4 linked regions of the Homo sapiens genome follow. The protein of the gene in region 4 purifies or fractionates together with the protein of the main gene of each other region. This does not show direct contact. Each region holds a gene or a part of one and is shown on either strand. Other genes may lie near its edges.

Evidence for each region.
Region 1: the proteins of IQSEC1 (region 4) and SLC2A12 purify together in Homo sapiens (co-immunoprecipitation; one large-scale study listed by IntAct). This does not show direct contact.
Region 2: the proteins of IQSEC1 (region 4) and PRMT2 purify together in Homo sapiens (co-immunoprecipitation; one large-scale study listed by IntAct). This does not show direct contact.
Region 3: the proteins of IQSEC1 (region 4) and ALS2 purify together in Homo sapiens (affinity purification with a luminescence readout; one large-scale study listed by IntAct). This does not show direct contact.

What each region holds. Positions count from the first base shown.
Region 1 is NC_000006.12:134,029,490-134,037,538, forward strand, and holds part of SLC2A12 (solute carrier family 2, facilitated glucose transporter member 12), read right to left. Parts: intron 233-8,049; coding exon 1-232. UniProt on the Homo sapiens protein: Insulin-independent facilitative glucose transporter.
Region 2 is NC_000021.9:46,650,480-46,658,528, reverse strand, and holds part of PRMT2 (protein arginine N-methyltransferase 2), read right to left. Parts: intron 6,724-8,049; coding exon of another isoform or gene 6,523-6,723; exon of another isoform or gene 5,685-6,522; coding exon of another isoform or gene 5,475-5,684; exon of another isoform or gene 3,432-5,474; intron 1-3,431. UniProt on the Homo sapiens protein: Arginine methyltransferase that methylates the guanidino nitrogens of arginyl residues in proteins such as STAT3, FBL, histone H4. Acts as a coactivator (with NCOA2) of the androgen receptor (AR)-mediated transactivation.
Region 3 is NC_000002.12:201,771,804-201,779,852, forward strand, and holds part of ALS2 (alsin), read right to left. Parts: intron 1-8,049. UniProt on the Homo sapiens protein: May act as a GTPase regulator. Controls survival and growth of spinal motoneurons.
Region 4 is NC_000003.12:13,068,008-13,076,519, forward strand, and holds the start of IQSEC1 (IQ motif and SEC7 domain-containing protein 1), read right to left. Parts: upstream 5,423-8,512; 5' UTR 5,008-5,422; coding exon 4,985-5,007; intron 1-4,984. UniProt on the Homo sapiens protein: Guanine nucleotide exchange factor for ARF1 and ARF6. Guanine nucleotide exchange factor activity is enhanced by lipid binding. Accelerates GTP binding by ARFs of all three classes.

The sequences.
Region 1 (8,049 bases), on a different chromosome or scaffold from region 4:
AAGATGATTGCTGTCCTTCTTCCATATCTGTCTATCAGGACCCCTCCGGTGAGTGAGGCAAGGAGGGCTCCAATGACGAGGGAGCTCACAACCATTTCCTGCTCATGGCAGCTCAGGGCTAATAAGGTTTTGATCTGAAGAAGAGCCCCAGAGATGATCCCAAGTTCATAACCCACCAGGAGGCCACTGACAGCAGCAGTGACAGATGACAGGAAGGTAAACATGCCGCAGCCTGCAAGCAGAGAGAAGAGACAGGGAGGTCAGTTCTCAGTTGAGATTTTAAACATTTTGTATTTGAGCGGAGATTTAACCTTGTAGAAGTCTTTCATAGCACTGGGTTTAAACGAACACACAATTATGATAAAATAATACACTAACCAAAAAATGATTTGATATAGAAGGAGAAATCATTTTTCTTTCTTTTTTGGGAGGATAGGCATGGAGACATGTAGGAAGTCCAGTTTCCTTCTATTTATGATGTTGATGTTTTTGGTTTAGATCAGACAGTGATGTTGAGATAAGCAGATGACACATGATGAAGACTGAACAAACAAGAACATCATTTGGTTCATGACTTGGCAGTGGATCAGAAATTCAAAGAGCCTGACTCTTTGGTCCCATTCCAGTTCTCTAAAGGCAAATCTTTGAGGGCAGGAGAGAGAGGATAGGAGCCTCTAGAAGTGCTACAGCCTCCTTGCTGGATAGCCTGGGTCAAAATGAAACACAGCCTCCAGGAAACTTGCCCTCTTATCTCCTGGGCCACAGTCGTGCTGCAAATGGCCTCTGCTGAACACATGAGGGTGTTGGGGCAGAGGGTGGAGGTGGGAGTGGGCAGTGTGTGAATGCCTTAACAAAGTCAAGGTTTTGCTAAACAGAAGGAAGGAAGAAATGTATGTAGTGTAAGGAACCAGCAATATCCCTTACTCATTCTGAGTAAGGAGAAAGGGGGATGGAACACAGGCAGAACAAGGAGAATTTACCTTTATATTGTTCTTTCGTTAATGTTCAAATCCAAGGAAAAATGTCAAAAAGTTAGTAACTATTAATTTTTGGTGGTAGGAACACAGATGTTTGTTATATGTTTGCAACTTGTCAAAATAGAAATAAAACAAAACAAAAAAGCAACAGAGGGAAGAGTATTTCAGGCCCAGGAGAAAGTAATTTCCAAGGCCTTAGGACAGGAAAGTTCTCATTATGTTTTAGGAACTGTCAGATGGCCAACATATAACATGTGGGGCACATTGTGAGCCTGGAGCGGTAGGACGGAAAGGGCTTAAAATGAATTTGGATAAGTACAGAGGGGGCACTTCAAGTAGGGCCTTGTCGGTCACAGTGATGACTTTTCATTGTGTTCCAAGTATAATGGAGCCAACACCCACTGAGAGGTGTAGAGGGCATTGACGCTATAGGTTTCTTATTTATAAAGTCCACCTTCACTGCTATGTAGAGATTAGTTCTTCAAAATGCAAGACTGGCAAGACTGGTAGCAGGGAGGAGTTTGTTGCCTTGGTTTGGACAAGAGATAATGGTAGCTTAGACTTGGGTGTTAAGAGTGGAACTGGAGATAAGTAGGCAGATTCAAGACTTATTTTGGAGCTAAAAACCACTACACTTGTTCAGGGCTGGATGTGGTGGCTCACGCCTGTAATCCCAGCACTTTGGGAGGCTGAGGTGGGTGGATCTCCTGAGGTCAGGTGTTCAAGACCAGCCTGGCCAACATGGCAAAACCCCATCACTATTAAAAGTACAAAAATAGCTGGGCATGATGGTTCATGCCTTGTAGTCCCAGCTACTCAGGAGGCTGAGGCAGGAGAATCACTTGAACCCAGGAGGCAGAGGTTGCAGTGAGCTGAGATCATGCCACTGCACTCCACCCCGGGCAACAGAGCAAGACTCCATCTCACAAAAAAACAAAAAACAAAAAACAAACAACAAACAAAAAAAACATTACACTTGTTCAAGAATTGGAGATGGGGGATAAAAAATGGGTCAGAACCCAGGATGGCTCTGTGGCTTGAGCAGGTGGGTGGGTGATTTTACAATATTTGATATACTCAATACAGTACTATATGGGGCCAACACCCATTGAGAGATGTAGAGGGCATTGTACTATATACTGTGTAGCGCAACATACCAACATAGGGAAGATTAGGAATAGAACTGGTTGTGAGTGGTGATAAGAGGAGGGGCAAAAATCAAAAGTTTCATTTTGGACTTAGTAAAATGGTTTATTTATTTTATCTGTAAGACATTCAGGTAAAAATGTTAAGTAGGGGATTGGGTATACAGATTTGGAGCTTAAAGATAGGTCAAGCCTGGACATATGTATTTGGAAGCCAGCAGCACACATTTGGTATTTAAAGCCACAGGAATGGGTGAGATCACTTAGGAAGATAAAATAGGGGAAAAGGAAAAGCATGATCAAGACTGGGACCTAGGCAATGCCAATATTTAGAAGACTAGTGCCAGCAAAGGAGATGGAGAAGAATCAGAACTGAGGTGTAAGTCAAATGTTAGAAATGTGATTACACACACGGTTTTCATAGGCTGAGCTAAGGCTGCCTTTTCGGGGTTGGGGGAGGGTATAGTTAAAAATGCTATTCAGCTCTAGTGAAATAAGCAGGTCAAATAAAGGTGATCTAAAGCTCTACCACAAATACTCAAGGTATTTTCCATCTCCAGGATCCTAGTAGGCTATGGGAATTGGCAGCCCCAAAAATAAGGGGAAAAAAGCACTGAATATTTAGATGGAGGAGCAAATAAAGGTGCAATAATCCACAAGAAATAAAGCAAATTTATGAGCATTTTGAACAAAACCCAGTAAACTGAAATTAAATCAGCAATTTATCTAGCTAATCAGAAAACAAAATATTTGGCACTGTTACATGGCAGGCATTTACCTGGGTACAGGGAGAAATATATATATATATATATATTTATATATATATATATATATATAAATATATATATATATATTTTTATATATATATATATATATTTGTTCTGTTTCACTGCTATATATATATAGCATATATACCAACATGGAGTTATATGCTACAGAATTTAGCTGTGGTCTCAGTTGCCTGAATTTTAATATCTTCCCTATTATATGCTTTAAGGGACACTGCCCCAAACTAGCTTTCCCACTTCCTTTACTACTGATACTTAGGACTACTGTTTGATCCTCAGCCTGTCCATTCGGGGTTTTGAATTCTAATTCACTGTATAAGGCTAGTCCTTAATGCTTCTGAGATTGTGGCTCTGATACCACATTTGTTCTGTTTCACTGCTATATATATATATTATATATATATAATTTATATCTATATATATAAATTATATATTATTTATATATAAATATATATTTATATAATATATTACATATATTATATATATAAATAACTTAATTTTTGGTGGTAGGAACACAGATGTTTGTTATATGTTTGCAACTTGTCAAAATAGAAACAAAACAAAACAAAAAAGCAACAGAGGGAAGAGTATTTCAGGCCCAGGAGAAAGTAATTTCCAAGGCCTTAGGACAGGAAAGTTCTCATTATGTTTTAGGAACTGTCAGATGGCCAGCATATAACATGTGGGGCACATTGTGAGCCTGGAGAGGTAGGACGGAAAGGGCTTAAAGTGAATTTGGGTAAGTACAGAGGGGGCACTTCAAGTAGGGCCTTGTCGGTCACAGTGATGACTTTTCATTGTGTTCCAAGTATAATGGGGCCAAAAAACTTAACATTCTGATGATATCTTTATTACCTATTATTTATTAATTTTGTGTGCTGTTTGACTTTTTTGGCATGCAAAATGACTTTAAAGTACTCTCTTATAGGTTCATTCATGTCCACGGTTTCCATATTCCTTTTCCTATGTGATCTTAAAATCCTCAACAATGAATTCCTCTACCACAAGGAGAATTAGGTCAAATCTTCACATTTGGATAAGAATATTGTATTATTCTTATCTCTGCTTGTCATTGTTCATTTTTTCTATGTTTGCTGTGTTGATTAGTGTATGTGTTTTGGCAATTGAGGACTGGTCTCTGATATTCTGATTGGAGAAATAAGTGAATTTGGAGAATGGACCACCTGGGAGGCCAGACTGAGTGAAGGACCTGGGAAGGGCATGTGGTGTGACAGAGGGCACCTGGGGCTGCGGAGTTAAGGATGCAGGGGAATCAATGCCATAACTGCTTTAATAGCAGAAGAAGATTGTCCTTGCCACCCTGTGCTTCTCCTCTTCCTTTCTTGTTTTCCTCTTTCATGAGATGGAAAATACTGTGTCCCTACAATGAGAAAGATGCCTTGAGATGCAGGAGTCCCTTCCTTCTGTGCTCCATTATCTTACCTTAGAGAGCCTGAAGTGGTTTGCTAAGTGCTAGCTTCTCTGTCTGGAGGAAAGAGCTCCTGACAGAAGAGGGACCCAACCTCTTCTGCTGCTTTCTGGACTTAGATCATTTGCCTGGTTTCTCGGGCCGGGACTCATAGCACACTGACAAATGGGAATATGTGCAAAGGGTCTGGAAGCCATCCCAGTTTGTCAACGTTCCCCTTGAAACCCATGGAGTATAATTCTTCAGAGACATTAAGGAATTATTTTTATATGAATCATAAAAACCTTTTACAATTTTCTATATGATAACATATATCTCTTTCTTGCTATCCATCTTTCTATCTTCCTGTCTCTGGGCAATTTGCCTTTAAGAGGTTAAAACCTTGTACAAGATCATTCTAGAACCCTAGTCCCACATGGACGGCTTACCAACATGGAGTTATATGTTACAGAATTTAGCTGTGGTCTCAGTTGTCTGAATTTTAATATCTTCCCTATTATATGCTTTAAGGGATACTGCCCCAAACTAGCTTTTCCCCTTCCCTTACTACTCATATTTAGGACTGCTGTTTGATCCTCAGCCTTTCCATTTGGGGTTTTGAATTCTAATTCACTGTATAAGGCTAGTCCTTAGCGCTTCTGAGATTGTGACTCTGATACTTCAAGACTTCCATCACAGGAAGTTTTCCTGGTGCTACTTTACAAAGAGAGGCATAAGGAGTGGGTTTTTCTTGTGTGTTGGTTAGCCATGACAAGAGCAAGATGCTATCCTATGGATGCTGGAAAGTAGAGATACCTTTTTCTAAGAAATCTGGCAGTGAACAGGAAGCAAGAGATCAGAATGTGGGTTAAAGCACTGGCAGGAAGGTGGGGTTTGTGTTTGTCTACACACAGAGGTGAGAGTTTGGGCAGCCACGTGGACTGAGGAGAAGTTGTCAGTGGTGAAGGACAGAGTAAGATGAGGATTCACAATTAGCACTTTTCCAAAAAATACCCAGCTTTCAAGTCAGTCTGCCTTTAATAATGATGAAGTAGAGCATTCCCAGTCATTTTGCTCATGGCTTTGCTTCACAGGGGCCCTTCCTTTACACCCCAGTTCTCCCAAAAAGTGCCATGGGGAATTCTTGGCTTTTTGTGGACATTACAGAAGTGGAAACTACCTGGAGGCTTGTAAGTGGTACCCCATAGGCAGTTTTGTTATGCCTATCCTGTCTTCTTCCTGCTGTTGGGGCTCGGAATAAGATACCCCAAAGTACGGCACATTGGTGTGCTGAGTACTTTGAACTAGACATGGGAACATAGGAAAGGCCGCTGGCTGCCTGACAAAAAAAAAAAAAAAAAAAAAAACTGTGTGTGCATGCTTTTCAGCTGGCTGTAGGATATCAGCCAGAAACAAGGTCTTTCTGACCCTCTCGCATTTTCCCCTGAAGCAAGTCATGGAAAACAGAATTCCTTTCCCCAAGGTGGGTCTCAGAAACCAGAACCACTCCGCCCCAAAGCAAATCATAAAACCTAAAAAGGTCACTCTCTCCCTTTTCCCTTGAAAACCTTATTTCATGGGAGTCCTGCCCTCTGCCCAGGAGGAAGAAATGCCACACAGTGAGGCCCAAAAAATCTGGACAGGCCTTGCTGGGTTTCTGTTTCAGTTTATTACTATTGACTCATACCCTTTTGTTCAATCACATTTCTACACGCCCATCCTTTCTTCATCAAACCTAAGCATAAAATCAGACATTTTTCCCTGAGTCTTTAGATCTTCATTTTGAAAGCCTCCCATGTCACATCAAACTTTGATTAACTAAATTTGTTATGCTTTTCTCTTGTCACTCTGTCTCCTGTGATAGGAGTGTTAGCTGTGACCCTGATGAGTGAGGAAAGGCATCACACCTTTCTGTCTCCACACTGCGTTGCTAGAAGTTCAGCAGCAGCAGTAGGAGGAAGATCTCCAGTTTGCCTTTTGATGCAATGACAATTCTTTATTAAGGTGATAAAGTAAAACTGTTCCTATCAAAGCTGTGATTCAATCAAGCAGCTTTATGCAAACAGGTGCTGAGACCTGCAGCACAAGAGCACCAAGGGTGCCACGAGACTGTAGCACCAGCCACCACCACAATAGCTGCATTGTCTGCTGGTCAGTGAGTCAGATGAAACCACAACTGTAGCTGGCACTCAACACGAAACAATCCATTTTTCACAATATTTGAGTTTCTGCCTGCTTTCTTCTTCTCTTTCTTCCCCATATGCCTTTTATTGCATATGGACATAATGGGCACGCAATAAACACTTGCCAGCTGACTAAATCCTACAGCCAGCTGAAAAGCATGCACACACAGGTGGTTTCTTTTTTTCTTTTTTTGGCAGGCAGCCAGGTAATTATATAGCTTGACCAACTGTGAATACTTTACAAATTTAAAAGACACCCCCACCCCCACTTCATATTTTGTTCAAGAAAAACTTGCAGTTGTCCAAAAATGGCCTTGCAGCTATGGCCTGCCCTTCCTGTGCTCTTTCTCCCTGAACGCCTTTGTTCCCAACTCATCTTTCAATAGTCATCTCTACTACCACCTCATTTCTGAAGTCCACTTCTCAGTCCTCAGCATTATCTTGCCCCCGGCTCGTGTGTGCCCACTATGCACAGAATGTGTGTTCAGAGTCCATCTCATTTTAAGGCACTCTTTGATTGACCTGTGTGTCTTCACTATTAGACTGGAAGTTCCTTGAAGGCAAGAACCCTGCCTTTCTGAGACCTGTCCTTTCACCGCTAGCCTTCTGGCACAAAGTAAATACTCAATGTTTGTCGAGTGAATGAATGAATGAATGAAAACAACACTCCAGAATACTGATCCTTACACCTCTACTCCCCACAATTGTATCAACAGACTATGGTTAATCTGTAGTGTTATATAATGGTTAGCATCTAGAACTTTATCTTCATATAAATATTTAGCAACTGAATAGCAATCCATTAGCATTTCTATGAAGGTTTTAGCGCTATGTTTAGCTAGCTGATATAGCACCATTTCAGGGACCATAAAGTGTTTTATTGTCACAACTATATTTATATTTTATTAAACTTCAGCCCTATGCATGGAATTGTTCTCTAGTTGTTCAGACAGAGTATTTAGCAGCCCTGTTTCAGTGGACCAGGTCTTCAGGTTCCATAACATTCTCCAGGCACCAACTCTCCAGCCCATCTACACCACTAGCTGTTTCCAGAATCTTCTGTGTTCTTTCCCAGGTCTGTGCTGAGACTCAGGCTATTCCCTTCACCACAGGGTCGTTTGCCTTCCTTCACAGCCCAGGGAAACTCGATTCAATTTTTTTTTTTTTTTTTTTTTTTTTTTTGAGAAGAAGTGTCACTCTGTCGCCCAGGCTGGAGTGCAGTGGCGCGATTTCGGCTCACTGCAACCTCTGCCTCCCAGGTTCAAGTGATGCTCCTTCCTTGGCCTCCTCCTATTCATTTTTAAAGGGCCAGCTCCAATATCCCCTCCTCCATAGGCTTACCCTCTTGGGTTAGCATTTTTTTTGGCTTTTGTTTTTGTTTTTTTTTTCAGACGGAGTCTGGCTCTGTCGCCAGGCTGGAGTGCAGTGGCATGATCTCGGCTCACTCTCCACCTCCCAGGTTCAAGCGATTCTCCTGCCTCAGCGTCCGGAGTAGCTGGGACTATAGGCGTGCACCACCATACCTGGGTAATTTTTGTATTTTTAGTA
Region 2 (8,049 bases), on a different chromosome or scaffold from region 4:
ATAATTTCCCATTAGAACTATGAACTGGAGCAGAGCTAAAAGCAAGGACAAATCTTCACTCTTGTCCCATCTCAGTCACGGAAGAGCTCGTAGCTACCAGATTTTGAAAGAGCCCTGAAGTGTTGCCGGGTCCCAACTGTTACATAAAATATATTTGGTCCGTAGCATTCTCAGAATTTTCACACCCTTTAAGTGGACTGAAATCACTGCTTAAGAAACCGAAAGCCACGCAGGCATGCCCTGGCCATTCACGGGTCCTTTGGTCCACCTTGCATCCCTCAGAAGGTCCCAAGTCAAGGGAAGCACATCACATCTATGACTGAGGAAGTGGGGACCCAACGCCCTCAAAGGCCAGGCTTTCTGTCTGAACCAGAACTTGCTTCAAACACAGAAAGGAGTAGAGGGAGCACCAGCGAGGTGGGGCCAAGGCCTGTGGCCCCTGCAAACCACCCAGGGAGCCTGCACTTCATCCTGTAGTTGATGAGAAACAACAGAAGTGTTTTGCTTCCTTAAATAATCTCAAGCTGCTTTTATTACAGAAGTAATACATGTTTTGTACGGAAAATGTAGAAAACTTAGAAAAGCTCAAACAAACATAAAAATCACATATTAACCCAGTACCTAGAAGGAACCACTGTTATCACTCTGCAGTTTACCTTCAAGTATTTTTCTACACACGCACACAAAAAATATATACATCTTATTTTTCAATCTTATTTTTTCAGTTATGTAGTGAAACAGCTTTTCTGGCGTACAGCCTACGAACTTGAGCGCTTGTGTGGATTTTGTCCTCACAACCACAGCCAGCATACACACAGCTCTGCCACCCAAAACACTCTTCACCCTTTTCTCTGGTGGTCATGCCCTCCCCGACCCCAGCCTCTCCAGCCACCGATCTGGTCTCCATCCCCATGGTCTTGTGTCTTTTTGAGAATATCATACAAATGGAACCAAACAGTACATAACCTTTCAAGACAAGTTTCTTTCACTCACTGTACCGTTTCTGGGGTTCCTCCAAATTACCTGTTTCAATAACTGGCTCCTCTTCACTGCTCAGTGGTATTCCACTGTGTGGACGCACCAGTTTATCCTTAAGGATTATCCAGATGAAGGACACTTGGGTTGTTTCCAGGTTTTGTTTTTTTTTTTTTTGCAATTATAAAGAGAGCTAGTATAATCATTCACATACAGGTTTTTGTGTGAACACAGCTTGCATATCTCTGGGTTGAACACACAGGAGAGGGACTCCTGGGCATAAGGTGAGTGCACATACAAGTCTATAAGAAAGCACCCACCTGTTTCCACAGTGGCATGTTCCCTCCAGCAATGCATGACTTTCAGCTGTTCCTCATCCTCGATGACAGTTGGTATTACTATCAGATTTTTTTTTTATTGTAGTCATTTTTCAATGGGTGTAAGTGATATCTCACTGTGGCTTTAATGTGCATTTCCCTGATGGCTATGCTGAACATCTTTTCATGTGTGTATTTGATATCTGTATATCCACTTTGGTAAAGTGTCTGTTCAAGTATTTTGCCCATTTTCAATTGGCTTGTTTTCTTCCTGTTGAGTTTTGAGATTTCTCTGTATATTCAGAACACACACTGGATATGTTCTTTGCAATATTTTCTCCTAATCTTAGCTTGTCTTTTTTATTCTCTTAGCATCATCCTTTTGCAGAGCAGTCATTTTTAGTTTTGATGAAATTCAATTTATCAACATTTTCTGCTATGGATCACGCTTTTAGAGTAAAAAGTCTTTGCCCAAGTCCAGGTGATGAAGATTTTCTATGATTTTTTCAAGGAGGTTTATAGTTTTACATTTCACACACTTAGATCTATGATCAATTTTAAGTTCAGCTGTGTATGAGATGTGAGGTTGAGGTGTTGTTTTTTAGATATGGATGACAACTATTCCAGTAACATTTGCTGAAAAGACTGTCTTTTCTCCATTAAATTGATTTTTGTACCTTTGTTAAAAAAAACCCATTGACCATATTTGTAGAAATCTCTCGTCTCCATTCCATTGACTTACGTGTCTGTCCCTTCACCACATTGTCCTGATTACTGTAGCTTCAAAATCAAGTAGTATAGTTCCTCCAACTTTACCCTTCTTTTAAAAAATTCTATCAGCTACTCTAGTTCTCTTAGTCCATTTTTGTGTTGCCAAAAAGGAATATCTGAGGCTGGGTAATTTATAAAGAAATGAGGTTTATTTGGCTCATGGTTCTGCTGGTTGGGAAAGTTCAGGATTGGGCATCCAGTGAGGGCTTCAGGCTATTTCCCCTCACGGTGGAAAGCAAAGGGGAGCTGGCACGTGCAGAGACCACAGGGTGGGAGCAGAGGCAAGTGGGCGTGCCAGGCTCTTTTTCACAACCAGCTCTTGTTGGGACCTGAAAGAGCTAGAACTCACTTATCTACCCACGAGGAAGGGCATTCATCTATTCATGAGGGATCCACACCCATGACCCAAACACCTCCCACTAGGCCCCACCTCCCAACACCACCACACTGAGGATCAAATTTCAACATGAGATTTGGTGGGGACAAACCATAGCACTAGTTCCTTTACATTCCATATACATTTCATAATGAGCTTATCTATAAGAACAAATCCTGCTTGGATTCTAATTGGAATTTTATTAAGTCTACAGATCAATTTAAAAAGAACATACGTCTTTACTAGGTTGAGCCTTCTTATCTCTCCATTTATTTAGGTTTTCTGGGGTTTCTTTCATTATCATCTCATCATTTTCAGCATCCAGATCACATTTTGTTAGATTTCTAAGCCTTTCATATTTTTGAAGCTACTGTGATATTCTTTAATTTCTAATTGTACATTGCTAAGATATAAAAATGACTTCTGTATGATGACCTTGCACTCTGTGATCTTGTTAAACTCACTTACTAGTTTTAGGAAATTTTCTCATAGACTCCTTAGGATTTTCTGTAGGTTTTTTTGTAGATGTCCTATGTCATGTTAAATTTCCTTCCCTTTCTAGTTTGCTGAGAATTTTATCATGAACTGATGTTGAATTTTGTCAATTTTTTTCTGTATTGATATAATCATGATTTTTCTTCTTCAGACTGTTAATATGGTAGATTACACTGATTGATTTTCAAATATTGAACCAGCCTTGCATTCCAAGGATAGTTTCTTTTTTTGTTATGGTGTATTATTATTCCTTTTATATCCTGCTGGTTTAAATTTGCTAATGTTTTCTTGAGGATTTTTACATTTATGTTCATGAGGGTTATTGGTCTGTAGGTTTCATATTTTGTGTTAACATTGGTTTTGGTATTAGGGCAATGCTTACCTCATATAATGAGTGAGGAAGTGTTCCCTCTTCTTTTCTGAAAGTTGTTTAGAACTGGAGTTTTTTCTTCATTAAATGTGTTGATAGAATTCACCAGTGAAATCATTTAGGGTAGAGATTTACCTTTCAGAAGGTTTTTAAACTATTAATTCAATATCTTTACTAGTTATTGGACCATTCAGGTTATCTATTTCATGTTAGATGAACTGTGGTAATTTGCAGTTTTCAAAAGAATTGGTCCATTTCATGGACCTTCTTTGCTTCTCACTCTATGTATGTACACTCTATGTACATACATAGAGGGAGAAGAAAGAAAATGATAACTCAAGACTGTTTCAGGAATACAGTTGTTTCTTGGTGTCTATGGGGAACTTGTTCCAGGACCCCCGTGGATATTCAAATCCTTGGATGCTAAAGTCCCCCATATAAAATAACGTGGTTTTTACATACAGGCTACACACATCCTCCGACAGACTTTAAATCATCTCTAGATTACTTCTACCTAATACAATGTCAGTGTTATGTAAGTAGCTGCTATACTGTATTGGTGTGTTATTTGTATTGATGTTTATTGTTGTATTGTTATTTTTATTTTCTGATATTTTCAATACATGTAGGTTGTATCTACAGATGTGGAGCCCACAGATACTTGACCGTACTTCAAATTCTTGTCTTCTTCACCAGTCGATTGCTACTATGTCTTTGTTCCAGAGTCCTCAAATAGTTTCTCCCTGTCTACTCTCCAGGATTTATAGCTGCATTCAGTGGGAGACATGAAAGGAGTATGCCTTCTCCATCTTATCTGGAACTGAAGCTAGGTTACCACTATGTCTAATTTTTAAACACAAAATTGGAATCATACTGTACATACTCTGTACTTTTTTTAAAAACTAGCAACATGTCACCAACTTTTTCCAAAGACTGTTAAAAATCTTTCTAAAACATAATTTTTAATGATCATATGTATTGCTACAATTCTGTTGTTTCCAATTTTCTCCCCATTTTAAACGGTGCTGCCATGAACATTTTTTAACATAAATTTCTGTACAAATTTGATTATTTCCTTAGGATAATTTCATCAAAAAAATTTGGTGCCTGGTCTCTGGGTCCAGCTGCTGGGAAGGAGGACACTGCAGTCTCAGCACCCACCAGCTCCTCCTCCTTCCTCCTCCCCCGAGGTGAATGTGCCCTCAGAAGTGCAAGCTGCTGATTAACTATGCTGCATTTTTTATGACGTGAAAGTTCGGAAATGCTCCACGCCAAAAAAAAAAAAAAACAAGAAAAGAAAAAAGGCTGTCATTTTTTGTCCCAGTGCAGACAAAGTGCATTGTTGTAGAAGGAGGTGAAGAGACCTTGGTTGGAGATGTCTAAGTGTAGCCATAAGCGGTCCTTCAAGCATGTGGTGGCAATGTTTCCTGAAAAAGATGTCTCTGTACTTTGTATGAGGCAAGCTTTAAAACCAAGGAATCCAGAAGAGTTGATGGTTTTGTGTGTGTGCGTGTGGGCACCAGAACTAGCACCTCTGAAAAGTAAAATGATCTACATGAGCTCCAGGGAATGCAACCAAAAAGAAATATCAAGGCATAAAACATGAACATCAAGCAAAGGGGCCAGAAGTCCTCCCTTAGGCCTGTCCCACTGGGAAGCCAGGCGGCCTTGGTTGTGGCCTCTGCAGGGTGCCCTGTGTAGATCGTCCTTCAGTGCCACAAACTGAAAGTGCCCGTGTTTACGCTTATCCTCTTGTTGTGTAAATAAAGCAAATACATTTAGGCCAGAGTCTTGCTGAGGGGGAGCTGTCCCATCATCTACACCACACATTCTATAAATATGTGCAAACAGCCTTAAATACATCCGAAGTCTGAAGTGTTATTGGTATGAAATTAAATTCTTACTGGCCACGTGCCTGTTTTCATGAGCTGACTTATAAAGACTTTCGTTAAGCTCAGGATTTGTGATAATACAGTCAATAAAACAGTACAAGGCTGTGTGAAGAGAATTATTACATCTTTGTTAACCTCAGCAGTTACTTTGTTTCTTTTGCTTAGAAAATTCGTCATAATGTGGTTGTAATTTTGGTCCAAATTCTTTATTCTTCCTTGAGCTAAAGAGAATAACGGAATATAATATGTCCTCATCACATATTGACAGCACGAATACACTAACAACAGTAAGACTGAGTCTGGCAGTCTTTTAATTCTACCAAATGTGCAATGGAGATCCTCAGTGACCTTGCAAAGCGTCCTGAAAGGTCCAGGAGGCAGCCCCTGCACCTGCAGTGCCACTGGCTAGTGGGAGACTGCTGAGTGTGCAACCTGCTTCTCGGAAATCGTGGCGTGGCCTCAGGAGAACAAGCAAGATCCTGTAACAACTAATGATAACGCAAATTAGGGCTCAATTGTCACCTGCTTTGTTAACAAAAATGATTAAATGGTCTGTTGACAATCTAGGACACCTGTGGTATCTTTACTTGCGTCTCCTTCAGAACTTTGCTGCTTCTGGAAAAACAAAAAAATTTTAATGCTCTTTGACTTATTCTGCCCTATTTTCCTTCAAAAGGCTTTACCAATTTACACTGCCAAAAAAAGGGCATGGCGGTGCACACTTCCCCACAACCTCAGCATCGGGAGCATCAGATATTAGAGGATTGCTCAGCCAACTTCCCAGGTCAAAACTATTACAGTTACTTTCAAATTGTTGGTGGCATTGAACAACGTTCAAGCTCCTGGCCTCTGGCATTTCTCTGCCTTTCTAGTCCCTGCTCACCTTCCATGAGGTTACCTTTATCTTATGCTTTTCTTATTGCAACTCTTTACGTCACACAATTCTTTAGCTGCAATTCTTTAGTTGCATTTACCATTTAATAGTTTTTAGCTGTGCTAATGTATGAAGGGGAATTTTTTGTCAAGTATTTTATTTGACAGCTTCATTATGAACTTGGTTCTTAGAAAAACCTTTCCCATCCTAACAACAAATAAACTTGTAGCAATTTTTTTGTTTCCTCCTTTTCTTAAATATTTAACTCTTGAGCCCATCTGAGGTTTATTTTAGCAGATGGTGTGAAGAAGGGCCTCTTTTCTCCAAATCAGTCGTTCCAGCACCATCTCTGAACAACTACATGCCCTTGCTGCACTGACTGAAAGCTGCCCCTCCTATGCTAAACGCACATGCACTCTTCTCTGTCTTCAGACTTTTACTACATGTCAGCGTCAGAGTAGGAAGATGGGCCAGGAGAGATGAAGGCCTGAGGGCTGAGGGGCTCTGAGAACAGGCAGACAGCAGGCAAGGAGGACATGAAGAGGGACAGACGCACAGGTGCAGGGGAGAGGCAGACAGCAGGCCAGGAGGACGTGAAGAGGGCCAGACGCACAGGTGCAGGGGAGAATGCGGCAGCTCAGGAGAGGCGCAGCCTGGGGACGGAAAGTGAAGGTGGGTACAACCGCACCAACGACTCCCAGATTCATACCCTCCCTCCCTCAAATCCGACCAACCCTGTGCCCCAACAACTATCGCCATAGGAACTCTTGCAGCCCCGTCTGCCCTGTTCTGGGCCTCCTTGGCCTGAGTAATGATGGTGGTGGTCCCTCAGTCTCCCTGGGGGGGAGTCTGAAGTCGGAACTGCCTCAAGCCCTCACCTGCAAAGCTCCGCCTTCCCCCTCCACTGCCTGCACTGGAGAAAACCACCACATGGTCCTGTCTGACTCACCCCAGCACTCCTCCAAATGTCCTGCTCAGGGTGGCCCCTCCAGGCCATCGCCCACCGAGACCCCAGGCCATGTCCCCACTGCCCAACCAATAGCTGGCCCTGCACATCGGATGGGCATCCTATGTTCAAGACCCACACAGATGTCCACCCTCCCCAGGGCCCTCCCTACCCCGGCCCCCAGCCAGTCCTGGTGGCCCACTCCCTGCGGCTCAGGGCTGGGAGGCACCGTCCTGCTCACGCCAGGCCCCCATCAGCACATCCTGCCTGCTGGCCCTGCTCTGCATCCCCCACACCTGCCCCATGCCAAGCCCTGGCTCCTGCATCCTGACAATAAAGCCATGGTCAGTCCTGGAAGTCTGTGCACCTCCCACACAGAGGGGCCTCCCCTCACACAGAATGTCCCAGGCCTCTCTGCATGCTGGGGCTGGACCACAGCCAGTCCCTGGCCTCCAGTCCCGGCCACACATACCCAGGGGCCTCCAAAACACAGCCCACCTCTTACTCCATCACTCACACACCAGTGGCACTCCCTTCGGTGTCCAGGACGTGGCACAAAGTCCTCAGACACACAGTTCCCTACATCTGGCCTCTGCCTCCCTGATGCAACACAGTCTGGCCAATCCGGCCACTGGGCAGCCCTGGAACACGGCAACACGGTGAACACAGTGGCTACTCCTCTCCCCTCCCTCTGCCCCACGTCCCTCCTGTGTCCCTCTCACCCAATCCAGGGCACAGCCGGACACTCCAGCAGCCAGGCTTCCCCGTATCACCGCCCACACAACCTTGGCCTCACCACAGCCTCACTCCTGCTCTGTCCTCTTTTTGTCCCCGTGGCCGGGGCACCAGCTGTCAACAGATACTTATTGAATGGGCGCTGCTGTTCAGGGCAAAGGCAAATGCCCCTTCAGGGGGTAGGAGTGGAGCCCGTTTCTCCTGTGTGTCATCTTATGGCTCCACAGATGTTATTAATAAGCCAAGTCACAGCATGGACATTGAGTCTATTTACATTTATCTTCTGACAACAAAATTT
Region 3 (8,049 bases), on a different chromosome or scaffold from region 4:
GGTCTTTATCATTCCTTAAGAGGGCAAGATCCTTGTACTCTGCTGCTTTTCTTCTGTTACAGTAACTTTCCTGCATAGACCTGTTAACCAGCTCTGATAAAGAAGCCATGTGATGTTGCATAAACAGCATTTACTGTGGGACCCTCTCTTACCTTGCATGGCCTCTCCACAGATAAATGGCATCTCCGTAAAATGAGCAAACCAGACTTCAGTCTTCTGAACCGCAGGACACAGCTAGATTCACTTTAAAGCATACCACTCTATCCTTCAAATTATTATCTCCTTCACAGTGATATGTAAAGTAACAAAACCCCAGGGGGCCCTTTAAACAAAGAGCAAACCTTGCTTCTTAATAAACTGATGCCACTTTTAGACTCCACTGGATACACATCCTTCTGTTACATCTAACAGAGAAATAAGTTGTCCTGTACGAGCCAAGGATATCATTTTAATACCATGATCTGGAAGTGCCCTTAACAACAACAACAACAACAACAATCTAGTCTAGATGTCCCAACTGTTAGAAAGATGAGCTACAACCATCTTACAGGTCTACAATACCTTAACCAGAAATCTATAGCTCTGAAAATTAAAAGTTTTTTCAATAACACTTTTGGTGGCAAAATCTAATCTGACCTGAACTCATCTGACAGCAAAATCTGACCTGAACTGATATGAGGTTATTTATCACTTTTATCCCTTTAGTGTGAATATTCATACATCGTGTTGTAGAAATATCAGTATGAATAGGGCAGCACCACAGATCCCACAGGAAGTGTTATATAATATATAGTTTATGCATCTTACTCTAAAGAACAAAACATAAATCTGAATTCCAAAATGCACCTTGCCCCAAGGGTTTTGAATAAAGGACCAGGAATCTATATTCAAAAACAACTATCGTTTTTTAGTAGAAGTCTCAAAACTTTTAACTATTTTATACTTAACTTGGTTTCTTTTATGTACTTTGAACATTTACTTCATTTTGGAGAGTACACTGGGGAGTTGCATTGCTTCCAGTGGGACAGTCTATGGATGCTTTCATGATTTTTTTTTTTTTTTTTTTTTTCATTTTTGAGATGGAGTCTTGCACTGTCGCCTGGGCTAGAGTGCAATGGCATGATCTCAGCTCACTGCAACCTCCACCTCCTGGGTTCACATGATTCTCCTGCCTCAGCCTCCCGAGTAGCTGGGATTACAGGTGCACACCACCACACCTGGCTAATTTTTGTATTTTTAGTAGAGACAGGGTTTCACTATGTTGCCCAGACTGGTCTTGAAATCCTGACCTTGTGACCTGCCCACCTTGGACTCCCAAAGTGCTGGGATTACAGGCGTGAGCCAATGCGAAGGGCCAATGATTTATTTCAATGACGATTTACATTTGTTTCAAAAGTTTTAAACCAATTTTATGGTGAACACTCACGGAGCACCAAAATGAATTTTTGCAAGGAATATCCTGCCTGCAAATACTCCATCGGCTCATCTTCTCAATGGAGGAAGGAAGCCTGGGTTCTTAAGTTTCATACAATGCTGCCAATTTGGTGAAGAAGAGGTGAATAAATGAGAGATGCTCTGGGGGCAGAACAACTAGTACTTGGTGATTAGACAAAGGTGGGGGACCAAGGAGAAGCAGGTATCAGAAATGATCCCTGGTTCTGCCTCAAATAGCTGTGTGTTGGTGGCTCCATTTCCTGAAATGGGCAAGAGTGAGGGAGATACGATTCTGAAGCAAAGATAAGATTCTGGTAGGATAAAATTTATTTTTAAGTTCAAGATGTCTGTGAGAAACCCAAGAGTACATATTAAGTGAATAGCTGAATATATGAACATGGAGTTCAAGAGAAAAGTCTCAGCAGCTGCTAAACTTGGGAGGGCGTATGGATAGTGTTTAAAAACAAGACAATAGATAATGTCATTGGGTATATGGAAAGAGAAAGGAAAGCGCAGTGTCAAGCTTTAAGGAGCTCCTGCGCCTGGAAGTTGGATAGGATGAGGATCGGACAAAGAGGACTGAGACTGAGAAGTGGTCTGCCGTGGGCACATGAAAGCAAAGGAAAGCACTTCAGGGAGGACGTCAATTAGGTCAAGGCAGCTGGGGTCTTGTAAGATAACTAAAGTGTCCATTGGATTTGCCAACACAGGTAACGGCTGAGCATGGCCACAATCTCAGTGGTTTGTTTGGGCACTGAAAACCAGATTGAAGTAAGCTGAATATAAACAGGAGGTGACAATGTGGAAATATCTTTATTTTCAGTGGGTGATCCTTTTGAAAAATGTTGAAATGGCAAACAAAGAAATGGAGCAGTAGCTGAAGGGGAATGTGAAAATGAAGGGTTTTCTTTTGCTGGAGGTTGGGGAGATGGGAGGAAGCTGAATATGTCTGCATGACAAAGGCTGTGGTCCTGGATACAAGGATGATGAGGACAGTGGGCAGAGCCAAAGTCCCAGACAAAGTGAAGGAGGATGCCATCCAGAATATATGTGGGGGGATTGTTTTTTTCATAAGAAGAAAGGTCTACGTTTTTGAAAGAAGAGAGATCACAGGTACAGATATAAGCAGAATTATACATTTTGTGGTGGGAGGATAAGGGTTCCATATGATGGTACCTGGAAGTGAAGAGGACTTCACAGTATGCATGTTGTATAGTCTGTTTCTTTATTTTATCCCACCCTGCTATACATTTTTGTAAGCTGCTTTAAATCCTTTTGGGAAGAAGGCAGGATATAAATAAAAATTTTAAATGTGGTAGAGAAATGTGTTGAGTGTATTATCCCAAATGCAAAGAGAAAGTTAAATCATGCAGGATCCTATGTATTCATCTCTACTCAACTATTTTCTGGATAAAGTCTTTTTGGCTTAATTCGGTGAAAGGTAAATTTGTGAGTCATAAGTATAATAACTTGCAAATGCTTAAATTTCAACCACTAAAACCACATGTATTTTTTTTCATCTACTATGTTCCAGGTATTATGCTAGTCTAAAATTTCCATGGAAGCAGAGTGACAAATATCGTATTTTCTAGTACATCCCAGCAGCTTAGTCCTGATATATAACAGGTACTCAATAAACATCTGTAAATACATGACTTCCTGCCCTTAAGAAATTTCCATACTAGTATGTTCTCTTTCTCATTAGAATAATGGCTCTCTATAGAGTTAGACAGTACCCTTAAGGGATAAGAAAGCTAATTTACACTAGCAAAACTGGGCCTTCCTAGTCTTATTCTCCTGTCTCAATTACCGGTTTAAAATAGTAAAACAACAGTAATAATTGTAGTTATAAGAGTAATGTTAATCAGTGATTAGAATGACAAGACATTCAGATAGAAAGGCAATAAAAATAATAGGTGAGTAAACTGTATCATAATGCCCTGAATGGAATATAGACATTGAGTGACTTGGATACAAAATTACCATAGATTTCATGTAGCCATTAACACTTCCTTTTTAAAGTCTGAGTTGGTTACATTTTATTACAATGTAGTAGAGTGACAAGTGATTTGGATACAAAATTACCATCAATTTCCTATAGTCATTAACACCTCCTTTTTAAAGTCTGAGTTGGTTACATATTATTACAATGTAGTAAACCAGAGTTTACACTTTGCAGTAAACAATAACAGAGTCTGGTATTTTACACATGGTAAATGCTTAATAAATAATTTGCTTTTAGAGGCTAGGTCAATGTTTACACATGGATTATGGTAACCTTTGACTCAAACACCTGACTTACAAATAATCTATACACCAACAACAACTGCTACTTCCTGGATATCCTGCCACTGAAGCCTTCCCAACCACTGTGGAAGGCTGAGGAAAACTCACCTTGCACTGAAGCCTTGGCCAACTAACCACCAAGAAGGCCACTTGGAACCCCACGCCTCTCAGCCTTAACTGCTGCACAGAAAGCATTGCCTGATACCAGTATGGGAGCCAATGAGCCTTCAAATCTTGACTCAGAGTAAGAGAATTCAGTAAATTAAGGCATTGGATATATTCGGTAGGCTGGCCTAGAAAGCTACTTATTAGTTATAATGTTGTTACTAATAGGATATGCACTAAGTCACTGATTCAAAATATATTTTAAGCTCCTGGAGGTCAGAGACTATGACTTATTCACCGGTATACTCTTGTACCCATAATAATCATTCTGAACAAGCTGGTTACATTTAAGTGAGTGCTTGAGTGAAAGATACAGCCCCTGATTTTCAGTTGCAATCCACAGACTTCCACGCTATAGATTTCTAGTGCCTGTAATAAAAGTCAGTAACAGATACAAAAGAAAAAAGTGTCTTCTCCTAATAGAAACTCTCATATATAATTTGCTAAAGGTATATCCTAACAATGAAGACACTTTTATCTCATGTCACTTTAAAAATGGTTAAACAACTCAGAGAAGTGTTCCTTTCTCCCTTTCTCCTTAGTACACAGACAGCTTTTGGTGCAATGAGAAACAGGAAGACTTTACAGTCTTTTTTTAATGCCTTGCTAATTTCATGCTGAAACTTACTGAAACTACACTCTCCTGGTTATGACGATCCTCTAATCGGAAATTATTCATGGTGGAGTGGGGGGAAAGTGTGTAAACATGGTACAATAAGTTCCCAGCAATGCCCATTTAGCTCTTTTTTGTACCCACTGCATATTTTAAACACATTTTTCAGGATTATTAAATAATAATCCCATGATGCATTGTGATGAATATTATAATACTAACAAATGAATTTCAAATTCCCAGGTACTGCCACTATTTGTGCCTGTTATTACATGGTACAGTGAATGTCCTGGTAAGTCCTGACACAAACTACTTATTCCGTTAATATTTGCAACTACTCTCTTATTAAAATGGCCACAATTTTTTCAAAGGCAATATTAGATTTACAGTTCAAAGTATGATGACTTCTTTCACCAACTGATAACAGTGCTTAGGATCATTCAGGGGCCACATAACTAAACAGGAAATACACATACTAAAAAATATTATTCTCGTGATACAAGTTTCACTTGCTTTAATAGTGCTAGTAGCAGGTTCTCTTTATTAGAAATAAAAATATTGTTTAACTCACAAGTTTAAATACTGAGGTTACATTAGGGATCAGCTACTAAACGTATTATTCATTAGTCAACCATTTAACACATTGTCATCAGGTTACTTACTAATATCTATAGAGACAACTATTTTCTTTGAGCAACAACTGGGATACTTGCATTCAAGGTATAAACTCAAGATAACTACGTTGTAATAAAATGTAACCAAGTTAAGCTTTTCAAAGTGTTAATGCTAATACTACACAAATCTGTAGTAATTTTGTATCTGAGTCACAACATGTCCAAATTCCTTTGAGGGCCTTATTATACAACTTGCTCCCCTATACTTCCAGAGTTCATGATTGGTATATGCCTACATTTCCCAAGCATCTCTAGAATGTTAATTCCCCTGCAGGCTTCATGTCCTAAAGAAAGCATTTTCCCAGGAGCACAAACAGCAAAGCAAAACTGACCAAATAATTGGTCTGTCTCCTCTCCTTAGAAAAGCTTTACATAGTGGAGCTGCACTGGCACATTCCTTTCTTATTGCAGGGAAAGAAGAGTTCTTTTTCCACAGTCTCCTAATTTGAGGGTACAAAGTAAAATAAAGCAAACATATTGGGAAACAGTCCTGATTATAAATAAAAATGTTAAAGTGCTAGTTTCACAAACTATCTTAACTATACATAAAACTGTAAAAATAAATAACAAATCTATGTACTCATCATCCAGTTTTAACACATATTAACATATTTTCATATTGGCTTCAGCTCTTTTTTAAAACACAAGAAAAAATAAGTTACAGAGGTGAAGAAACTCCACTCAGAATTAGTTACTATTTCTAAAGTTAATGTATCCCATTCCCACGTTTTCATATTTACTTTTATGTACTTTCATTAGATATACACATATCAATAAATAATGCATGCTATTATGTTGCTTTCAAAGTGTACACAAATGCATCTTACTGTATAAATCCTTTAGCATTTTGCTTTTTTCACCCAGTATTACATACTTGAGATGTATATATGTTGGTAAGTATAGATCTAGCTCATTCATTTTTATGAGAAGATAGTATTGAATTGCATGAATAAACCAGTTTATCCATTTCCCCACTAATCTTTACAGTTGGATTGCTCTACTTTATTGCTCTTTTAAAGAGCTGCTATAATCATCCTTGTTATATGTTTGCTTAGCCAATTGCCCCAAGTTTAGTTAAGATCTTGGCTCTACAAAAATTTAGGCTGTGGAAGAAAAAAAAATCCTGGAGTGAATGTTAGCCCACCCAAATGCCATTATTGGGTCTAAACCACTCCCTTCCTGATAGGGAGGCCATGTGAACTGAAGAACTGTGTGATGACTCAAAAGAAAAATATTTAAAATGTGATAATTAAGGGAAACATGAGATGATCAATTTGTGGAATTAATGAGATGAAAGCTGATCTTCTCTCTGGACATAATTCACTAGCAGCTAAGCGAAACTCTGCCAACAAACCCCAGTCTTTTTCTCATAGGTATTGAGAAAACTGTAAATTTTCTTCAAATTTGAAAGAAATATACAATAGCTCCAAAAACTACCAATTTAAATATTTTTTCCTCTACCCACCTGGATCAATCAGTTCAGCTACATGCAGGCAAACATCAAGACATAAGCTAAAGAAAGCACCATCACATATACAGATGAATAAGAGACAGGGAAAGGAAAATTAAATGCAATATGAAAAAGAAACAAGCCAGAGATTGTTGCTATTTTATTGATGACTACCTAACATTTTCTTAAGGACTGACACCCTACAAAACCGAGTACTTTCTTATTACAGACAACAAAATTGTTTGGTCATCAATGAAGGGTTAAGAGAAAAAAATCTGTTAAAACTCTCTACCAGGAAAATTCATATCCTGAATACACTTGAAATACGTGGTAGATTTAATTCCACAAAGTTATAAAAAGAGCTAAATGATTTAAAAGTCACAAATCCTCACAGCATGCCTCTGAGTGAGAAAGGTACCTCATAGTACCCAAAGCGGGCCTTCCTTTATACAAGCTTAAAAATCACCACTCTGCCTTTCTTCCTAGTTTTTCAACTCATACTTTACCTAGTCTCACATTAATAAATAATTGTAGATTTTTACAAGTCAGTCACATTTTTGAGATTATCATTAGAATGGACCCAGCAGCTACTGCTTTAAACCCAGTTTTCATGAAAAGGTAGGAGATTCCACCTAATTACAAAAACACTAACATCAAGACTCATTGAAGTTCTTAGCATACCCTTTGCTTCTTTAACAGTCAAAGTGCCCAAAGTAAGTGTTTCAAATGACAGCCCAAATTCTGAAAAACTGAAATTTGGAGAGAAGGGATTCCTGTTTATATTGAGTACATTTAAAAAGTAAATGGCCTGCATAATGCCACTCAAGTTTTGTTTTTTTCCCAAAATTATCGGTTTGGTATTTCATTTTTCTGGATCATTACAGTTTCAAATTTTAACACTGTTAAACAACTTTGACGTTTTCTTGCTATAATTATGAATTTTAAATCTGCTAATACTGGTCATAGTTTAGAAACTAATAAATTCAAACCATGTATAGATTCTGTCAGTATCTTTTTCACATTAAAATGTCCTTATGGAACACCAAAATTACTACAGAACAACTTGAAATCATATTTTATAGCTACTTCCTTAAAATATTCAGTTCCCTTCCCCATCACTTAAGAAAAGAGTCAGTTTGGATCATGATGTAGTGGGAGGAATTAATTATAAAAACAGCTAATATGTATTGAATATTTACCATAAAACAGGCACTGTAATAAATACGATACATGAACCATTACACGTAAAGGTACTGTTATCAGGAAAACATTTTTATCCCCAATTTAGAGACAAGAGAACTGAGGCAGAGAGATTAAATAACTTGCCCAAAATCAAAGATGTAAATGGATGTGACTCTGGGTATGTTCAGATACAAAGCCTAGAATCTTAACCACTATGCTTATGTTATCAAGGTTAAAACACCGTA
Region 4 (8,512 bases):
GGCCCGCAGGCAAACCCTGGAAGGGGAGTATCAGCCCCACCACATAGAGCAGGAGGCTTAGGCCCAGTGCCTGTGCTTGGGGCACTTGGGAAAAGATGCTGACCATGGGCTGACCAAGGCCCAGCAGGGTCCTGCCCCGGGGCTGGGGCCAATCCAGGCCTTACGCTTCCTCTGAGGCCCAGGGAGGATGTGGATGTCGGACCTGTCCTTCACGGATCCTTTGGTGGAAGATGGTGGCAGGTGGGTCAGAGGTAGGTGCTTGCCTAAGCAGACGCTACTTGTTGCCCTGCCTGTCCAGCAACTACCAGAAAAGTCTGTTCCTCTCAGTCTCTAAAATTCACCCCAGACAGGGTCTCTAAGTCCCAACATCATGCCAGGCCATGCCAGCTTTGGGTATACAACGGGGAGCAGGCCTGGGCCCTGGCCTTGCAAAGGGGCAGAGGCAGTGGCCAGGCCTCTGAATTTTCAGGCCCCAGGCTCATGACACCCCCTCATGGTTGGGAGGCCCCAATGCAGTTCCCCAACCTCTTTAACCCCCAGTCTTTTCTTCATATCTTTAGCTTCCAGCATGACGATGTGACTCTTTACTCCAGGGCCTCCATGAACAGCCCCAGCCCCTTTACCTCTCTTCTTGGTCCACTCTGCTCCAGCAACACCATCCTCCCTCTGTGGCCCAATCCTGTCAAGCATGCCCTCACCAGGGCCTCTGCACTTGCTGTCCCCTGCACCCGGGGCCCCCACTCTTCTCCTGGATAGTTCCTCCTAATCATTTAGATTTCTGTTCAAAGGTCACCTCCTCCAGGAAGCCCTCCTCACTTCCTGAGTGGCCACACAGTTCACTCAATCCATTCCCATTGGGCTCTCTATCTTCTTCATTTCTCTGTGTCCTTCTCCCCTGCAGTATCCCCTGAGAGCAGCACCCTCTCAGTGGTTCCCAGCACTGAGCTGGACATACAGCAGGTGCACCATGAACACTAGCTGAAGGCAGGGAAGTGAAGGCCCAGGCCTGGTTATGCGGCCTTGGCTGCATATCCCAGTCTTTCTGAGTTATAACCAGGACCTGCCCAGTGGCTTCCTGGGGCTGTAAAGGGTGGATAGATGCTACAGCATTCTTGGAAAATAGCCCAGTGCTGTGTGGGTCATTCATAATAACCATTTTTAATAGTGATCACTGCATGGCAAGAAAGGCTACCGGTCATCACACGTGCTTGAGTGAAGACTGGGCCTCCGGTTCCCTCCCTGCATCTCTCTCGGTGGGCTGGGGCTGCTCTTCCCTGGCATCCAGCCCAGGCCCACTGTCCAGCAGATGCTGATAACTGTGCCTGCAGAACTGACCCAGCCAAGGTGATAATGGTGAAGGCTCAATGCACAAGTTTCTTGGAGGTGTGTGTGTGTGTGGAATGTTCCAGGCCCAGTCCCACCAGTGTCCCTTCTTCTGTCTAGGGGAGACCCACCAGGGCTTCGCTTCCTTCATGAAGGCCCCACTGCAAGCAGCAGGTCAGGGCATCCCACCAGAGGGAGACCACTGCCTCCTGCGGGGGCCGGCAGGTCATCATGTCCCCCAAACAGAAGGAAGAGAGGGGTCGGGACAGTTCCAGGCAGTGAATGAATGATTGAACAGGCATGGGTAGGCGAGTGCTCCACTGGCCTGGCCAAGCAGCCCACATCTCACACACCACAAACTCCTCACAGCCTCACTTCCTGTGTTCAAGTGACAGGATGTGACATGCCCATGAGGACAGAGGGGCCCCTTGCAGAGATGATGAAAAGGATGCTGTAGTTACAGAATTGAGGGCCATCCTTCATTCAGACACCATTCATGAAGCTGCCAGTACAGCAATGACCTCAGGTGTTAGCAAGTTTGATTCAGGGTCTGATTCTTGGAAGCCTCCTGATGTTCCCCCATTGGGTTAAGAAATCTTCTCCTGCTTTTGTTGTCATCCTTTATCCCATCCAGTGTGCCACCTTCACGATGGACTGAGCCCTGACCGGGACAGAGTCTCGATTCCATAAAGCTCCCTTGGGTGCACACCAGGGGCCCAGAGAGTGGAAGTGGCGAAAATGGAGGCTAGGGAGTGAGGACAGTGGGGTGGGGGTGGGGGCCCGCCGGCAGGGCTCCACTAGGCTGAGGATAGCCTGGCTGTGCCATGCACAGGGCCGCTGGAGCAAGTCTGTCCCGATTTGACATGTGGCATGCTGGGGAAGGGACACCACTGCCAAATGTACGGCAGGAAACAGCTGTGTGACCCCAGTCAAGTTCCTTCCCCTCTCTGAGCCTCAGTTTCCTCTTCTGTAAAACGGGATCGACAGTATCACATTTTACAGCAGTTGGTGAGACCCCATGAGGCAACTAAGCATGAGAACGCTTTGCAATCAAGTTGGGCAGCTCTGATAGTGGCTACAGTGCAACTGTTGGGAAAGTTAAACATCTAGAGATGCTCAACACCCCATCTCCTTTCCACACTGAAAGGCAGGGTAACAATAAGGTCTGAGCAGCAGGTGCTGGGAGAGCCTGGGCCTAGAAGTGGGCCTGCCGCGGGTTCTGGGTGGGGAGTAATGGTGGGCAAACACAGGCTTATCAAGTGCAGCAGGGTAACCTCAGGAAAGGCCTGCTCTTGGTTACAAGATCCTTGCGTACAAACAGAGCCACCCCCTCCAAGTATCTTTGGTATTTCTGGTGCCAATAGGTTTGGTGGCAGAGCGGGGATGGCCTGGGAGTCACAATGCTCAGACTGGGAGCCTGAGAGCTGGAGAAGAGTGAAAAGACCCACAGAAAAGAAAGACAGTGAGCGCTAAGCCCCCTCGGGCCAGCCCCTCTCTTAGGCAGGAAGGCTAGACGAGCTTATTCCAGGAATCAGCAAATCCACCAGAGCCACGTGTTCAAATGCAGGTGGCTGGGCCCCCAACAGATTGAAGCAGACTCTCCAGGGAAGAGTATTGGAATCCATATAGAACATTGTCCCTGCAAAACTGCAATTGGATAGGCTTGGGCAACGCAGCCACAGTGAATAGCTGCATCACGGGAACATCAACCACACCTGGACATTAAAATCATCCGGAAAATGAAAAAGATCCTGAGGCTTGAGCCCTCCCCCAAACCTAGAAACCAGAATGTCTGGGGGTGGGACCCACACAGTTTTTTTTTGTTTTTTTTTTTTTGTTTGTTTCTTTAACTGCTCCTCAAGTGATTCCAGTATAGCTCCTGGGCTACAACCCCCACCCCAGGCTAGTATACTCCAGGGTTCCAGTAGAACTGTGCTGAGCCTCAGTTTCCCCATCTCTAAAATGGGGTTCTTAGTGCCTGCCCAGACAAGGCCTTTGTGAGGATGACATTTCTGAGCATTGGAGGCAAGCAGGCACTGGGCCAAGTAATCTGAATATGAATTGTCACATTTCATCCTCATGACATCTCCCCTCCCCGATGTAACAGCCCTGAGAGTTTAGAATTTCTCTGGCATCAGGCTCCTGGGCCCAGGCAAAGGTGTGGCAGGGAGGAGACAGCTGTCTCAGGAGGACCTATTCCCAGCCACTGGGGTGGAAGTTCCACGCTGGGAAAGGATTTACTATTTGTTTCAGAAAATGCAGCGAGGGCCTTGCCACAGGGAGTGAGAACTTTGGTGTGCTCTGCTCGCATCGACAAACCAACCTGTGAGCTTCTCCACTAAAAAAGCAAGTGAGCATCACAGCGAACCAGAGGCCACCGTCATCCCTCGAACCAGAGGCCACCGCCATCCCCCAAACCAGAGGCCGCCATCCCCCGAACCAGAGGCCACTGCCATTCCCTGAACCAGAGGCCACTGCCATCCCCCAAACCAGAGGCCACTGCCATCCCCCAAACCAGAGGCCACCGCCATCCCCCGAACCAGAGGCCACCGCCATCCCCCGTGGGTTGCCGCCTGGCACTGCTGACGCAGCAGAGGCAGAGGTGTGTTTACTTTCCCTCAGTGGAGGTGACGGGGAGCTGCCACTCTATCAGGGGTTCCACAGGCCCCTGCCATGGTAAGGGGCCTCCATCGATTAGGGAGGCCTTGGGGTAGCCCCCAGAAGGCTCCCCACATACTGCTCCAGGCCTCCTTTTCCTAGCCTTGCGACTGAGCCCAGCTCAAGAGGACTCAGCCATGCTCTCTAACCTCCTAAGGTCTGAGGTCACTGCACAGCCCCAAATGAGTGGGTCCTGGGCAAATAGTTTAGGCAGGTGGAGACCTGACGCTGGGCCTCAACCCCCGCAGCCGAGGGTCCCAGAGGAGGGCAAAGGTTGCTCCTCCTAGAACAGCACAGTGCAGCGCCCAGAGAGCTGTGAGGGAAGCTGGCATTCGAACCCCACTGCCCCCTGGGAAGCCTGGCTAACCGAAGCGCAGGCTTTGGTTTCCATAAATACCCGGGCCCGTGATGTCACCGCCCCGTGCAGACTTTCACAGCCTCTGCTGCTGGCGTGAGGCCCAGCACACAGCCGCTCTGCTGCCAGCCCACAGAACACCTGGGCACACAGCTGGACACTGATGCCTCCGTGCTAGGGACGGTGGGCTGGACCTTCACCTGCCCTTGGAGGACGCAGCATCCTGGCCACTGCCTCAGCCTGCCTGCGACCTTCTATCAGGCATGGCTGAAGGGCTGGCCATGGGCGTGCTGGGCAGAGATTCTCTTCCTAAACAGGCTATGGGCTAAACCAAAGCCAAAACAGTAGGAGCCGGTCTGGGCACCCTGAATGTGGATCTGGGAGGGGGGATACCTGCTCTCACAGTTGGGAATTTCACAGCCTGCTGAAGACCTGCTGACTAATAGCCTTTTTCTCATCGTCATCACCAACAAACACCTCCGCTGCAGGGGCCGAGCGCCGGCATCCCTGCTGGGTGGCCAGCTCCCTCTGCAAGTCACCTGCACATCCACCTGCCCCTCCCCCAACGATGCCCCTCACTCCAGCTCCCAGCTCAGCCGGGCCCCTCTGGCCTCTGGCTTCAGGCAGAAACCTGCCACATATACTCACAAATAGCGTCTTCTGCAAGCCATCCTGTGTGAATCCGTTCTTCCCTGTTCTGGCTCCCTCTCCAGCGGGGAGGCTCAACGTGTTTCCAAGAGGAGCAGGCGGCTCAGGCAAGAAGTGGAGGGGAATAAAATTAAATCGCGGGGCGAGTCACATTCCCGGGGGTGGCGGGCTCCTCCAGGGAGGCTGGGGCGGGAGCGGGGGGCGGCGCCAGCAGCGGGCTGTGGAGGGCCCTGGCACGTAGCGCGCGCTCACACCGTGCCCAGGAGCGAGCGAGGACGTCGAGTAACCGTGGTCGCCAGGCTGGGCGGGGGCGTCCACCTCGCTGCTACCTGGGCCCACCTTGGGGTTTTTCCCTCCCGTCCATCCGGGGTGCGGGGCGCGGGGATGAGGAGGGGAGGGTCGAGAGAAGGCTGCCCCGGGTTTGCTCTCGCAGCATCCGGAGAAGGGGCGGGCGCGCCGGAGCCTCCCCCACCCCCCGCGCCCAAGGAGCAACGTAGTGCGGCCGCGCCGGACCAATCGCCGAGGCGCTGGTCGCCATGGCAACAGCAGCATCAGGCGCGGCCGCTCGGCTGCGCCCTCGCGGCAAAGTCACACACCCGGCGGGGCGCGGGGCGCCGGCCCCTTCCTGGCCCGCGCTGGAAACCTGGAAGTCTGTTGCTAAAATGCACGCGCCGCGCGGAGCCTACGATGACACTACTTTCCAAGGCGGCTTTTCTGCCTTCGGCACTGAGACACGCGAGCCGCGGAGCTCTCGGGGCTCTGGCCCTGGAGTGAGGCCGGCCGACTCCAAGGCTGTCTCTGCCACTGAAGGGCGATGAGACCTTGGCAAGCCGCGTCTCTCCTGGGAGTCTTGATTATGCTACTGTGAAAGGGATCATAACAGCTATACCACGGGGTTCCAGGAGGGCGCACCACGCCAGTAGCTGCACGGTGGATGGCAGAGCAGTCCTCGTTTGTGCCAGTCCTGTCCCAAAGGGGGCTGCACGTGGCTAGGGAGAATTTCTGGTCTAGCTATGGTGCCTCTTCCTCTCCCGAGGACCTTCCATGTGCCGGGCAAGTATCTGCCCTCATGATGTTTACAGTCTAAGGGGAAGCCAGGAAGTAAGTGTGCAGATATAGGATTGCACGTGGTGATAAGGATCAGGATGAAAAGAGAGCAGGAAGAGGGGAGGCAGGGACCCCAAGAGAGGCGGGAAGGAGGCTTCTGCCATCAGACGGGGTGGTCGGGAAGGCCCTCTGTGAGGCACGTGTGGCTGAGACTCGGATGACGCAAGAAGCAGGGGAGGAGCTGGCGTCAAGGCTCTGAGGCGGAAGGCAGCCTGGTGTATTTGACTGGCCCAGAGGAGGCCAGCGTGGTGCAGTGTGCGACAGGGAGGTGGAGGGGAGAAGCGCACATCCATCCTCGGCTCCCACACCCGCCTTTCCCACACAGATTTCTCTCTTCCTGTCTGATGTTCATCTGATCCTCTCTGCTTCCTCATCTGTAAACCAGGAATCCCAGACCTATCTCAGAGGCATGTAGATAATATTCTTCCGTGCACGGTAATCCTCAAGACAACCCCAATGAGGCCTAATACTATCATCCTACTTCACGGGGGAGCGCATTAAAGCCAGAGGTTCAGCAACTGGCCCAAGCCACATAGCTGGCGGGCAGTCTGGCTCCAGAGTCTTGGTTCTTGACTGCTTGAAAGCTGCCTCACTGGGAGGAATAAATGAGAGAGGGAGTAGTTGAGACTGGGAATCGGCTGGATGTGGATGGCAGCCCACAGGGCCATTTCCCTTCCTCTTTCCATTCTCTCCAGATTCACACTCACCGAATTTAGAAGGAGTGATGCTGCATCCTTGAGTTCCATTCCATCCTTTACAGGGGAGGAAATGAACCTCAGGGGGTGAGCGATTTGCCTAAAGTTGCACAGCAAAGAGTGGCAGAGGTGGGACTAGGACCCCAGTCTTCCAGCTCAGTGTCCTGGTAGGGAGCAGAGGTTGGAGCTGCGGCCTCAGGTGGCCAAGGTGAGGCATCGAACAGAACTGCATGACGCTTCCCGATCTGCCCTCTCCAGGTGAATCCATATGCATGACCAATCTTCCTGTAGCACGGACCTCCCTCCCTGAGTCATGTGAGGAATTCATATTTCTGTGGGTTAACATGTTGCAGAGCCCACCCCACCCCTCTCCTCACTGGAGTTTCAAAAGATTTTAATAACATCAAAATTCAGCCACTGCATCAGGAGGGCTCACTTTGTGTCAGGTCCAGTTGTTTCATGGTCTCAGTGAATTCTCAGAAGCGCCCTACGAAGTGAACATAATTACCACTCCTGCTTAGATGGGTTGCACCACATACGGGGGTCTCCCATCAAGGCAGCAGCAGAGCCCAGACTAACTCACAGCCTGGCTCGGGCTAGAGCAATGCCCCTCTCAGCCGCCTTGCTCAACTAGCGATTCTCTTCTCACTTCCATCTTCCAGAGGCGGAAACAGGCTCAGAGTGGTGAATTGGATGCCTTGAGTGTGGAGCACCCAGTGTCCCTTTCCTGGGCTTCCTCTTTTGCTCCCTGGGAGGCCCATGACATGCATCTGCACATCCGTTGCTTCTTCAGCACTTCTTCTTATAAACGTACTCTCCTTTTCCTTCCATGTTATGCTGTTATTTCAAAGCAGAGGAAATGGCAAGGACCCTGGCATTCAGATACAAATGCCAAGATTTTAGGCTTTTACAAAACATCATTTACAGGGCACGTGGGTAGTGCCTACAACCCACCTGCACTGGCGCGGTTTTGATTTCTGACATTCAATATCCAGCGCCGGACCAGGCACAGAGGAGGCTCCAAAAAGCGTGGAGCTGGGATTCCGACTCTGATCTCTGACTACGGAACCCACAAGTTCATCCCTTCAGGCAGTGAGAGGTCAGAGAGTCTCAGAAAAGGGGCGCGCCCACCTGTGCAGGCTGAGCTTCACCTACCTCATGACCCCAAGCCCTCGACATCCAATCTCAGGGCAGATTTGTCAGCCACACCTCCCAGATGCAAAGCCTGTGGTCGTGAGAGGGTCCTGATCACATAAGAAGTGGAGCTACAGAACTCTGGATGGAATTGTCCACTTTCCTCACTTTCGCAGTTGTAACCAGATGTCTGGAGTGGGAAGCAGGGGCAGCCAGCCTTGGGGTTGCTGCCCTGTGACCCTGGTTATATCACAGAATCATCCACCCACTCACCCACCTCTGCAGGCTGGAGACTAAGGCACAGTGGGAACCTAGCATTCAGACAGCGTTTTCATCCCCTGGAGTTTCTGTAAGTGCCCAAGTTCACCCCTGCCCTTGCCTCATCATTGTGGACTGTGGGAAGCCGCTTGGATCAGAAGGTGAGAGCAGCTGCCAAGGGGTAAGTCCAGAAACATCTCACATCCATCTCCCTTCCCTCAACGGGAAAATTTCCACCCTGCAGGCTGGCAGGAACATTCCTGCAGATCGGCTCACTCCTGCAACCTGCGGCCATCTGTCCCCAAGGTGGGAGGAACATGACAGCATTTGGGAA